Linked DNA regions of Homo sapiens. The protein of the gene in region 1 purifies or fractionates together with the protein of each later gene. This does not show direct contact. Each region holds a gene or a part of one and is shown in the gene's direction. Other genes may lie near its edges. The genes, in order: CAMK2D, ZRANB3 and MRM2.

Region 1 (3,657 bases):
AATATTTCTTTCATTTGCATTCACTGATAAAAACTAAATATAGCATATTAAATACATGTGGTGCTTTAACCATAAGTGCCCCTGTTCATTTGACAGGAAGCCGGCTATGTTTTGCCTAGCATGTTTCCCGAATAGGAAATTATTCGTGTGTGCATCCCTCCCCTTTTCTCACGTACCCTGTACTAACATAAATACTGAATTTTGATCCCTCTTTAATAGACTTTTTACCTCTTATCTCTTTGGCTCTTGCACAAATATCATGTTAAATTCTGTGCACTTTGATTTAAAGGAAAAAAAAGGTTTTAACTATCTGCAGAATATAGATTGATGACAACATTTATAGAATTTTCCAGTAAAGGAAAGTTTAGAAGTTTTCTCATCCTTTTCTGTGGGTCAAGCAGCACAGTGTCACAACTTATTGTAAAAATAACGATACCAGTAATCAGACAAAAGGGAATGAAAAGAAAGGAAAAATATTACATATTTAAATTAATTTATGTTACTTTCTATCTTCCTCTCAATACTAGTTTTGACAGGATATATAGTTATCAGATATAGACTTCCAGAAAACCCGAACAATTAAACTGGTGTCACCACTTGAAATGCTCATTTGATACTCATTTATTTTATATAGTATATGTTTCTCTTTACATCATTATCTATATTTATATTAAAATCATGGAGGTATATTCCTTTAGAAAATAATAAATAAAATACCTAGATAATATAGTATAAGAAAATGAACGTTACCTTACATTTTTGTTTGAGAACCGTAATGTAAGTTGTCATGCATGAGTTTAAAAGAATGTTGATTGATTATTATTTTTCAGTCCTTGATTCTTAGTGCCCCGACTCAGTTGTAGTTTCTGATTGCCACTTGTCTACAAAGAGTCTTCTCTGTGGACCGTTAGAACACTTATTGACCCTCTGAGTTGCTTTTACCACGCAGCTTCCACAGTGGTAATGATATATTCTTTAAAGTCAAATCCAGTTATGTTAAAGCAAGGGAATGATATTACCAAATATATTCTGCAGTGATAGCAGTAGCACATTGACAGAAAATGTAGTATTTTCCTCTTACACAACTGTAAAAATTAAAGTCCTTTTACATTCAACATAAAAAGTTTGATTTCCCCACTAATAATTGAAGATGTAATTTTTAGAGGAGATCTACACTTGTCATTTTTAAAAGCTATTGTGACACCAGCGTTTTCTCAGAAGATCTAAATTTTCATTGGATAATTTAATTGCTCCTAAGCAAAGTAATGCTGGATCCCCAGAGAAAGATGTATGTGTGTGTGTGACTTCAGGCTCAAGAATAAAATGAGGGAAGAAAGAAATATATTTATAACTGTGAACAATTGGAAGCTTGGAAACAGAATCCAACTTGAACAGTATGAGAATGGTTATATTAATTTCATACTCTGAAACCTGATTGGAGCTCCACTGAAGCAGCTCTTTGTTTGCTAAGGTGGCATAGCAACAGCAGACACGTCTGTTTTCTCATTGCACCATCACGGACATGGTCCAGCCTGTGTGTGACCATCGGAGACTAGCGATCATCATTCCTGTCAGTCATCACCATGTCTTTCACGTTCATCTTCAGTGGCTCTTTATCTTCATGTCTACATCTCTATGTAGACATGCTGCATCTAGAGACATTGGCTACCAAGGGGTTTAAGGCATCTCTGTTTCTATTTTCTGCATACCCACAGATAAACAACAAAGCCAACGTGGTAACCAGCCCCAAAGAAAATATTCCTACCCCAGCGCTGGTATACCTGGACTCTTTGTAACCCTTCTTAAGTTCTTTACATTTTTTTTTTTTTGTGGTTTCTCTCATTTGCTTTCACTATATAGATACATATATATAAATATTTTATTTCGTTGGGTGTTGGGTTTTGTTTTTTTTTTTTTTTGCTTTCTATGATATGACCAAGTTCATTTCTTTTGGTTTTTTTTGGTTAAGTTAGTTGTCAAGCAGTGTGTTCTAACATGAGATTATCTCATTTCGTTGTTGAACATTGTACTGATAGCTGTGGTCTCTGTAGTTGGAATTACTGCATGCTGCATTCAAAATACAGCGCTTTGGTTGCTCTTAGCTCTTCTGATGATGATAGTTCTAGATTATGCAAACAATGGTTTCTTCTTTTCATGATGCAAATGCTTACATCAAGGAGAGCTAATGGGATTGTTGCTAGACAACATGAAAGTAGACCTTATTCAGAGTTCTCGTTTCCCTCTTATTAAAACACAACAGGGCTTTGTAAGACTTCACTTTCTGAGATAAAGAGGCACTGGATAATTTAGAGCTTTCTGTTTATTATGTTTTAAATTAAATTTTCACTGTTTCACTTTAATCCAAAGAATGAAACTGCAAAGAATAGAGGTTTGAATTATCAGTGGAAACCAGTTATGTCTATCTCAATCAAATCCACACAATTAACGACTAAATTAGTCTAACACTTTGAGATGGTATTATGTTAAAATTCAGAATTTGAATACTGTCATTCAGTGCTGAGTTCCATAACATTTTCCCTAAACTGTTTCATATTTTGATTTATGATTTTCAGAAATGTTTTTCAATTATTTGCTCTTCTCATACTGTTATTTTAAATAAATTTAAAAATGTTAAGGAATCATTTCACTTGAGTTAACCATGAGGCTCCATTTAAAAACATTTAAAAGGAGGACACATCAAAATAACAGGTTATCTACTAGTAAAAAACAATGTTGATCACAGCTGTAGCCAAGGGAAAGGGAGAATGGAAGCAGGAGATATGTCTCTCAATATTACAGCAGTGTAAACTGTAGTGGTGGGGGAGTGTCCATGATTGAGAACTCCCAGTGGGTTGCAGTACCTCCCCATTGCCAAGATATCACACAATGAAAGTGCCAAGCATGTCACTGATGTATGCATATTGAATCTTTTTTTACATCAGTTATTTGAATGTTATTCTCCACTTGGGAATATTTCTTTGCTTTCTGATAGAAAACAATAGAAAACCCATACTTTCTTCATAAAAAAGCATGACTTTATAGCCAGATATCCTGTATATATAGTCCATAAAGTAGAAGTTTTTTAGATATGAATTAATACAGGATTTAATAGCAGTATGCCTCAAATTATAGTGATTACATGATTAGTTCTAGATTAGTAGATTAGTTCTAGTTCATGATTAGTCCCTTAAACTTTTTAAATGTTCCTTAAAATTTTTTTATGGTCTTTTGAAATGGATTCTTTAGTATAGTCTTTTTTTAAGTGTTGTCCAATGGCTCTAGATTTTATAAGGGTATTCAGTTACGTATTAATTAATGACACCATAATCGAGTTTCAAACCAATATAACTGAAAAAATATCTTCTCTGAGAATTTGAAATCATCTCAGAGTTTTAGCTCCAGTGTCCTTGGCCAGTTCTCTATGGGACAGACGTTCACAGGCCACTCATTAAAGAAGAAAGGAAAGCATAGGATTAAGTGAAACAGTGAGTGCCTCTTCAGATCTCTAAATATCAAAGCCTTGTTTGAATGCTGATCAAGAATAAGGTCTTTTGCATGCTGCTTCTGGGTAGGGAGGTTCCTATCTCATGGCCTCGCCAGGGAGATCTTTCATCAGAGATATTGTCAGCTGCAACTCTGACAGCAGTTAACATCGCT
Region 2 (3,657 bases), on another chromosome or scaffold:
AAGCTGCCTAATTAAGAAGCACTCAATAATATTAAGAAATTCATGTTTAAACTAATTTCCAAAAAAATCTACAATAGGTGTAAACCACCAGAGAAACTAGGCCAATTAATAAGAAGGAATTAATCAGGTAATTGCATTTTACCAACTTAAATTCCCCCATCACCTTTAATGGGAATAACTTCTCTTTACTTCTAGTCCCTGAACATTGTGTGGTATTGTTAGTGTTGGGTAATAAGGTTCTGAATCCCATATCAAGAGTGGCTTTATTTCTGTGGAAGAATCCATAAACCCTGTATGGGCTGATAATAAGGGGAACAACCTTGAGATTACAGAAGATGTGATTGAACCTGGTTAACTAAAAAGAAACTCAGTTTACCCAAACACTGATACACTATTATAACTGACTAAGGTGATTTGGAGAAGCCTTGAAGGGAAGGCCAAGAGGGAGGTAAAATACAGTTAGAGATTTTCTGCACAGCTTGCCAAGCAGTTTCCTTAAGGCTGTCAGTTGTGCGTGTATTTGATCATTTCTTATTCTCACACCGACTCCTTTTTCCCCTAAATGAAAATTGCTCCAAAGGATATTGAATGACTCTTGAATTTCTTAGAAAAAGAAATTTGAGAAAACTAATTTGGAACAAAGAGATGTATTTCTCACATAATGGACACCAAGATAAAGGGTAAAAATTCCATTTTCTAACTTGAGTTTCAGCACAGTTAATAGAATTGTGCTTGCTTTTTCTTCTATTGCTTTTGCAAGGAACAATGTAAACATGCAATAGAGACATTTTTATATGAGATAGAGGGAATCTATTTAACATATCATTGTTTTAGATACATAACCAAAGAAGATGTTGCCGTAGCCTCAATGGACAAAGTGAAGAATGTTGGGGGCCATGTCCGTCTGATCACAAAGGAGTCCAGGCCACGGGATCCTTTCACAAAGTAAGGTTTTTCTACTACTAGTATATAGTAGTACTAATTCCACTCCTTTACATTTATGTATTGATTTTCATAATAATATCTCACCTTTGCATGACCACTTTAGAGGTTACAAAGAACTTTCACAAGATAGTAGCTCTTCAGTTGTCCTAGCAACCTGTTGAGGTACCTGGTGTCCTCATTTTAAACATTAGAGATGAAGAAGGACACTGAGACCAGGTGGACTAAGTAACCTGCCCCAGGGCTTGCGGGTAGAGGCCAGGAGACCTGAGGTTAAATCTGGGCTCTGTCCCCGAATCTTGAGCTCCATAATTAGAAGTCTTTCTTTTAACTCTTCTAACAAACAACCATGGAAAACAGACAAAGCAGCTGTTGTTACTTCCCAAGTAGGACTTTCTAACAAAATTGAGTAGTGTACCTTTTCTTTTATTCTAACAAATTGAGCACATATCCTATCATGTTTTGTATCCTATCATGTTTAATTTCATCCACTCTGCGTTTACCTATAAGAGCAAGTCTTCTGTTCTAATTCCTATCAGCACTGTCAGCTATTTCACTCTGTCACTTTATGGCTGTGACTCTATTTCCTGTGAGCTAGCAGAGGCTGGAGGAGAGAGTTTGTAATTACCTCTCTGAGCTAATGAGGTGTGTGACCACATATATTTAAGGAGCAGGGTAGCCACTAAGCTTTGGTTGGGGTTTTACATTAGCCTGTCCTTTCCCAGCCTGAAGAAGCATTTTCTAACAGCTTCTCCAGATGTTTCACATGTTTCCAGATCGTTTAACACAAGGGCATCCCCTTGTGTTAATTCCCAAGAGAGGCAACATATTTATATTCAATTAATTTTTGTAACACACCATTCTTCTTTACTTGGCATGGAATATAGAGTGCTGACTGTAACTATTTTATTTCTACACTGTGATCTGTGTTTACTATTTATCCGTATTGAAACTTTGATAACCTTTATATGAAGCAATTACTATTTAGCCTAATCATTCATTAGTTACCTATTCAGTGTTTTTATCAATTGTAGAAAACTTCTTGAAGATGGAGCCTGTGTCCCATTTCTAAATCCATACACAGTCCAGGCAGATCTCACTGTGAAGCCCTCTACATCCAAAGGCTATTTGCAAGCTGTGGATAATGAAGGAAATCCACTTTGCCTTCGCTGTCAGCAACCCACTTGCCAGACTAAGCAAGCATGTAAAGCGAACTCTTGGGATTCACGGTTTTGCTCTCTGAAATGTCAGGAAGAGTTTTGGATTCGATCTAATAACAGTTACCTGAGAGCCAAAGTATTTGAAACTGAACATGGTGTGTGTCAGCTCTGTAATGTGAACGCACAAGAACTCTTTTTACGTCTGAGAGATGCCCCTAAAAGTCAGAGGAAGAATCTTCTGTATGCTACCTGGACTTCAAAGCTCCCATTAGAACAGGTAAGTTATAATCATGTGATAGATAGAAGGCAGCATTGTACTGAGTAATGAATATTGACTCTCTATTTTGTACATTTTAACATGGGAATATTCAGATATATAAAAGGAAAGAAAATAATGGACCCATATGTCCATCAGCCAGCTTTAACAGTTTACAGCATTTTGGCATTCATTTTCATCTGTCATTGACTCACTTGTTTGTTTCTCCTAGAATATTTTATTTATTTATTTATTTATTTATTATTTATTTATTTATTTATTTATTTTGGAGACAGAGTTTCGCCCTTGTCACCCAGGCTGGAGTGCAGTGGCGCAATCTCAACTCACTGCAACCTCTGCCACCTGGGTTCAAGCGATACTCATGCCTCAGCCTCCTGGGTAGCTGGAATTACAGGCATGTGCCACCACACCTGGCTAATTTTTGTATTTTCAGTAGAGACGGGATTTCACCATATTGGCCAGGCTGGTTTTGAACCCCTGACCTCAGGTGATCCACCCGCCTCAGCCTCCCAAAGTGCTGGGATTACAGGCATGAGCCATCATGCCCGGCCATCTCCTAGATTATTTTAAAGAAAATTCCAAACGTTTCTTTTCACTCTTGAATATTTTCATTCTGTATCTCTCACAGGTAAAGACCTCCTTCCTTCCTTCTATCCTTCTTTTCCTCTCCCTCCCCTGTTCCCCCCTCCCTCTTCCCCTTTCTCTCTCTCTCCCTTCCTTCCTCCCTTCCTTCCTTTTCTCCTTTCCTCCTTCCCTCTTTGCTTGTCCTCATTTCCTTTCCTCTCTTTCTTTTAAATATAATCCCAGTATGAGTTATCACACCCAACACAATTACAATTCCTTAATTATACTAAGTCTATGTTTGGTTTCCCAGGTTGTCTCAAAAATGCCTTTTGCTGGGCTCAGTGGCTCACACCTGTAATCCCAACACTTTGGGAGGCCAAGGCAGGTGTATCACCTGAGGTCAGGAGTTCGAGACCAGCCTGGCCAATATGGAGAAACCCCATCTCTACTAAAAGTATAAAAAATTAGCCAGGCGTGGTGGCAAGCACCTGTAATCCCAACTACTCGGGAGCTGAGGCAGAAGAATCGCTTGAACCTGAGAAGCAGAGGTTGCAGTGAGCCAAGATCATGCCACTGCACTCCAGCTTGGGCAACAGAGCAAGACTCTGTCTCCAAAAAAAAAAAAAAGTATTTTATAGTTACTTTGTTCAAATTAGAATCAAAATGTCACCCACATAGTATATTTGATTATAATGCCTCTTATGCTTCATTTAA
Region 3 (2,912 bases), on another chromosome or scaffold:
GGTGCAGTGAACATGGAAATCACCTCGCATGAGACCGCCCGCAGGTACCAGCACCAGCATGGTGGTGTGCATCCTTCCAGGCTTGTGCATGCATAGATCCCTCACATTTTCAAAAGCGATGTTGTGCCATACTTTTCTTGCTAATTTGCAGCCTATTGGAGCTATTTTTGCTTAATGATACATACATATATGTATTATATATATATATATATATATATATATATATATATATATATATATATATATAATTATTATTGTTATTATTTTTGTTCTTCCCCCCCCTCCAGATGGAGTCTCACTCTTGCCCAGGCTGCAGTGCAATGGTGTGATCTCGGCTCACTGCAACCTCTGCCTACCTGGTTCAAGCGATTCTCCTGCCTCAGCCTCCCAAGTAGCTGGGATTACAGGCGCCCGCCACCGCACCCAGCTAATTTTTTCTTTTTGTTTTTTTAAGTAGAGATAGGGTTTCACTATGTTGGCTAGGCTGATCTCGAACTCTTGACCTCAGGTGATCTGCCCACCTCGGCCTCCCAAAGTGCTGGGATTACAGATGTGAGCCATGGTGCCCGGCTACTCTTAATGATGTATTGACATCTTTCCCCAACAGCACAGCTAAATTTCCAAGTCGCATAAGCCCTGGGGCTTTCCTGGTGGCCCCACTGGGGCTGCTCCGTCCGGAACCTAGAAGAGGCTTCATGGCCAGGGCTATGGATTCTTTGCTCTGGATGAAGCTGAGACACAGTTTTCATCTGTTTTGTATCTTAGGGTTTTGAGTAAGATTTTCTATATAAAAAGGTTCTCCTGAATAATGAGATCAGCCAACCGCCCATGCAACTGAAGACACTGTCGTCATTGGGAAAGTTTCATCCTATTCCATGTAGTGCTTGCACCGTAGGTTCTTTAACCAGCTCCCTCACTGTGGCATCAAGGTTGCTTTTGGCTTTTGGCTGGGATGCGTGTGCTGTGGTGAATATCCTTGCCATTTATGTTTCCTGCTGTAAAGCCAGGGTAGCTGCATGCACTGGCATTTGAACAGGGTGAGACAGTCCACCCAGAGCTCTCCCAAGTCTCTCCCAAATACCTTAGAGTAGGGACACTGGTCCCCATTTATTGGTGAGAAAACAGGCTCAGGGTTTCATGACTTGTTGAAAGTGCAGAAATGGAATGCTGGCCCCCTGGATCTGCACATCTGCCTCGCTGCTGGTTTGCGGTAGGTTTGCCATGAACTCTTGGTGTCTACCTGCATCCCCTTGGGTGGCCCCTGCCCATACTTAGGCGGGGATATGCCTCTTCGGGCTTTTCAACAGCATTTTTTTTTTTTTTTTTTTTTTTTGTTTATAGAGCCTCACTCTGTTGCCCAGGCTGGAGTGCAATGGCGCCATCTCGGCTCACTGTAATCTTTGCCTCCTGTGTTTAAGTGATTTCCGGCTAATTTTTGTATGTTTAGTAGAGATGAGGTTTTGCCATGTTGGCCAGGCTGGTCTCGAACTCCAGGCCTCAGGTGATCCGCCCGCCTCTGCCTCCCAGCATCCTCGAGGTGCTTCCTGGTGCTTCCATCGTGGTCAGCCTGAAAGCCTTTTTATTGTTTTTCAGCTCAACATTTATTGACTAAATAAGTGAATTTGTGTTGGAAATGTCAGTTCCTTTTCTCATTGCTGAGCTTATCACCGTGGAGTCCTCCTAGTAACTGATTTCAGTGGTTTCTGTTCCCCTAAGTGCTCTTGAGATGAAGCAGGAGAGTGGCCCAGCGTGCCTTGTAGGAGGAAGTGACAGAAGGAGAGAGCGTGAGCGTGATCTGCCTGGGCTTGTCCTCCCGGAAGTCACAAGCATGCAGCCAAAGCTGTTTGCCTTCGGTGGAAATTTCCGAAGGTTGTAACATACTGGATATTATAGGAGTGAAAGCTCAGGAGCATAAAGTGAGGCGTGAGGCCGGGCGCAGTGGCTCACACCTGTAATCCCAGTACTTTGGGAGGCCAAGGGGAGGATCACCTGAGGTCAGGAGTTCGAGACCAGCCTGGGCAATATGGTGAAACCCCCGTCTCTACAAAAAATTAGCCAGGTGTGGTGGCATGTTCCTGTGGTCCTAGCTCCTTGGGAAGCTGAGGTGGCAGGGGTCGCTCGAACCTGGGGAAGTCAAGGCTGCAGTGAGCTGAGGCCGTGCAACGGAGTGAGGCCTTGTCTCACACACACACACACAAAGACACACAAAGATAACTTGCTGATATTTGAGTAACACCAGTTTGCTAAAACTAAAAAGATGCCTTTGTGTCACCTTACGTAAAACAAGACTTGTTGCCTATAACTGATCTCAGCATCTGCCTCCCCCTCTTCTCACTCTGTACCTACATTCAAAGCCCCCTCTTCACAAGCCCAACGCCCCCATCTCCCCAACAGTCCCCTCCACTGAGGAGGGCCGTAGTTCTGTTGAGAAATTGTCAGAGTTGATAAGCTAAGGGTACAGTCACAGATTTTCTTGTTCAGTCTGCTTAACAGAAAGGCTGTTCCAACGGTAGGGGGAGAGAAAGGGACCGTGTTTCATTCCTAGTGTAAACATTGGAAGTCCAGGTATTTTGAAGATTACCTCATTTTTCAAAGGCGAAACCCCTCAGTCTTCACCCCAGGAAAATGGGACGCCTCACGCCTCATTTTAGCTGGGTCTCCTGAGTAGCTGAGACTACAGCTAATTTTTATATTTTTTTGTAGAGACAGGATCTTGCTATGTTGCCCAGGCTGGACTAGAACTCCTGGGCTCAAGTAATCCTCTTGCTTCAGCCTCCCAAAGTGCTGGGATTTTAGGTGTAAGCCACCACACCTAGCCGATATCAGTTTTTGTACGTTATTTTATATCTGTTCATTTTCCTCATCTCTTGACTTGTTTCCAGTAGTTTCTACATTGAAAGCAATTGGATTAA

What was found.
Region 2: the proteins of CAMK2D (region 1) and ZRANB3 purify together in Homo sapiens (co-immunoprecipitation; 3 studies listed by BioGRID and IntAct, with this or other methods). This does not show direct contact.
Region 3: the proteins of CAMK2D (region 1) and MRM2 purify together in Homo sapiens (co-immunoprecipitation; 3 studies listed by BioGRID and IntAct, with this or other methods). This does not show direct contact.

Annotation. Positions count from the first base shown.
Region 1 is NC_000004.12:113,503,094-113,506,750, reverse strand, and holds part of CAMK2D (calcium/calmodulin-dependent protein kinase type II subunit delta), read left to right. Parts: intron 1-1,715; coding exon 1,716-1,775; intron 1,776-3,657. UniProt on the Homo sapiens protein: Calcium/calmodulin-dependent protein kinase involved in the regulation of Ca(2+) homeostatis and excitation-contraction coupling (ECC) in heart by targeting ion channels, transporters and accessory proteins involved in Ca(2+) influx into the myocyte, Ca(2+) release from the sarcoplasmic reticulum (SR), SR Ca(2+) uptake and Na(+) and K(+) channel transport.
Region 2 is NC_000002.12:135,206,156-135,209,812, reverse strand, and holds part of ZRANB3 (DNA annealing helicase and endonuclease ZRANB3), read left to right. Parts: intron 1-834; coding exon 835-945; intron 946-1,976; coding exon 1,977-2,379; intron 2,380-3,657. UniProt on the Homo sapiens protein: DNA annealing helicase and endonuclease required to maintain genome stability at stalled or collapsed replication forks by facilitating fork restart and limiting inappropriate recombination that could occur during template switching events.
Region 3 is NC_000007.14:2,236,313-2,239,224, reverse strand, and holds part of MRM2 (rRNA methyltransferase 2, mitochondrial), read left to right. Parts: intron 1-2,912. UniProt on the Homo sapiens protein: S-adenosyl-L-methionine-dependent 2'-O-ribose methyltransferase that catalyzes the formation of 2'-O-methyluridine at position 1369 (Um1369) in the 16S mitochondrial large subunit ribosomal RNA (mtLSU rRNA), a universally conserved modification in the peptidyl transferase domain of the mtLSU rRNA.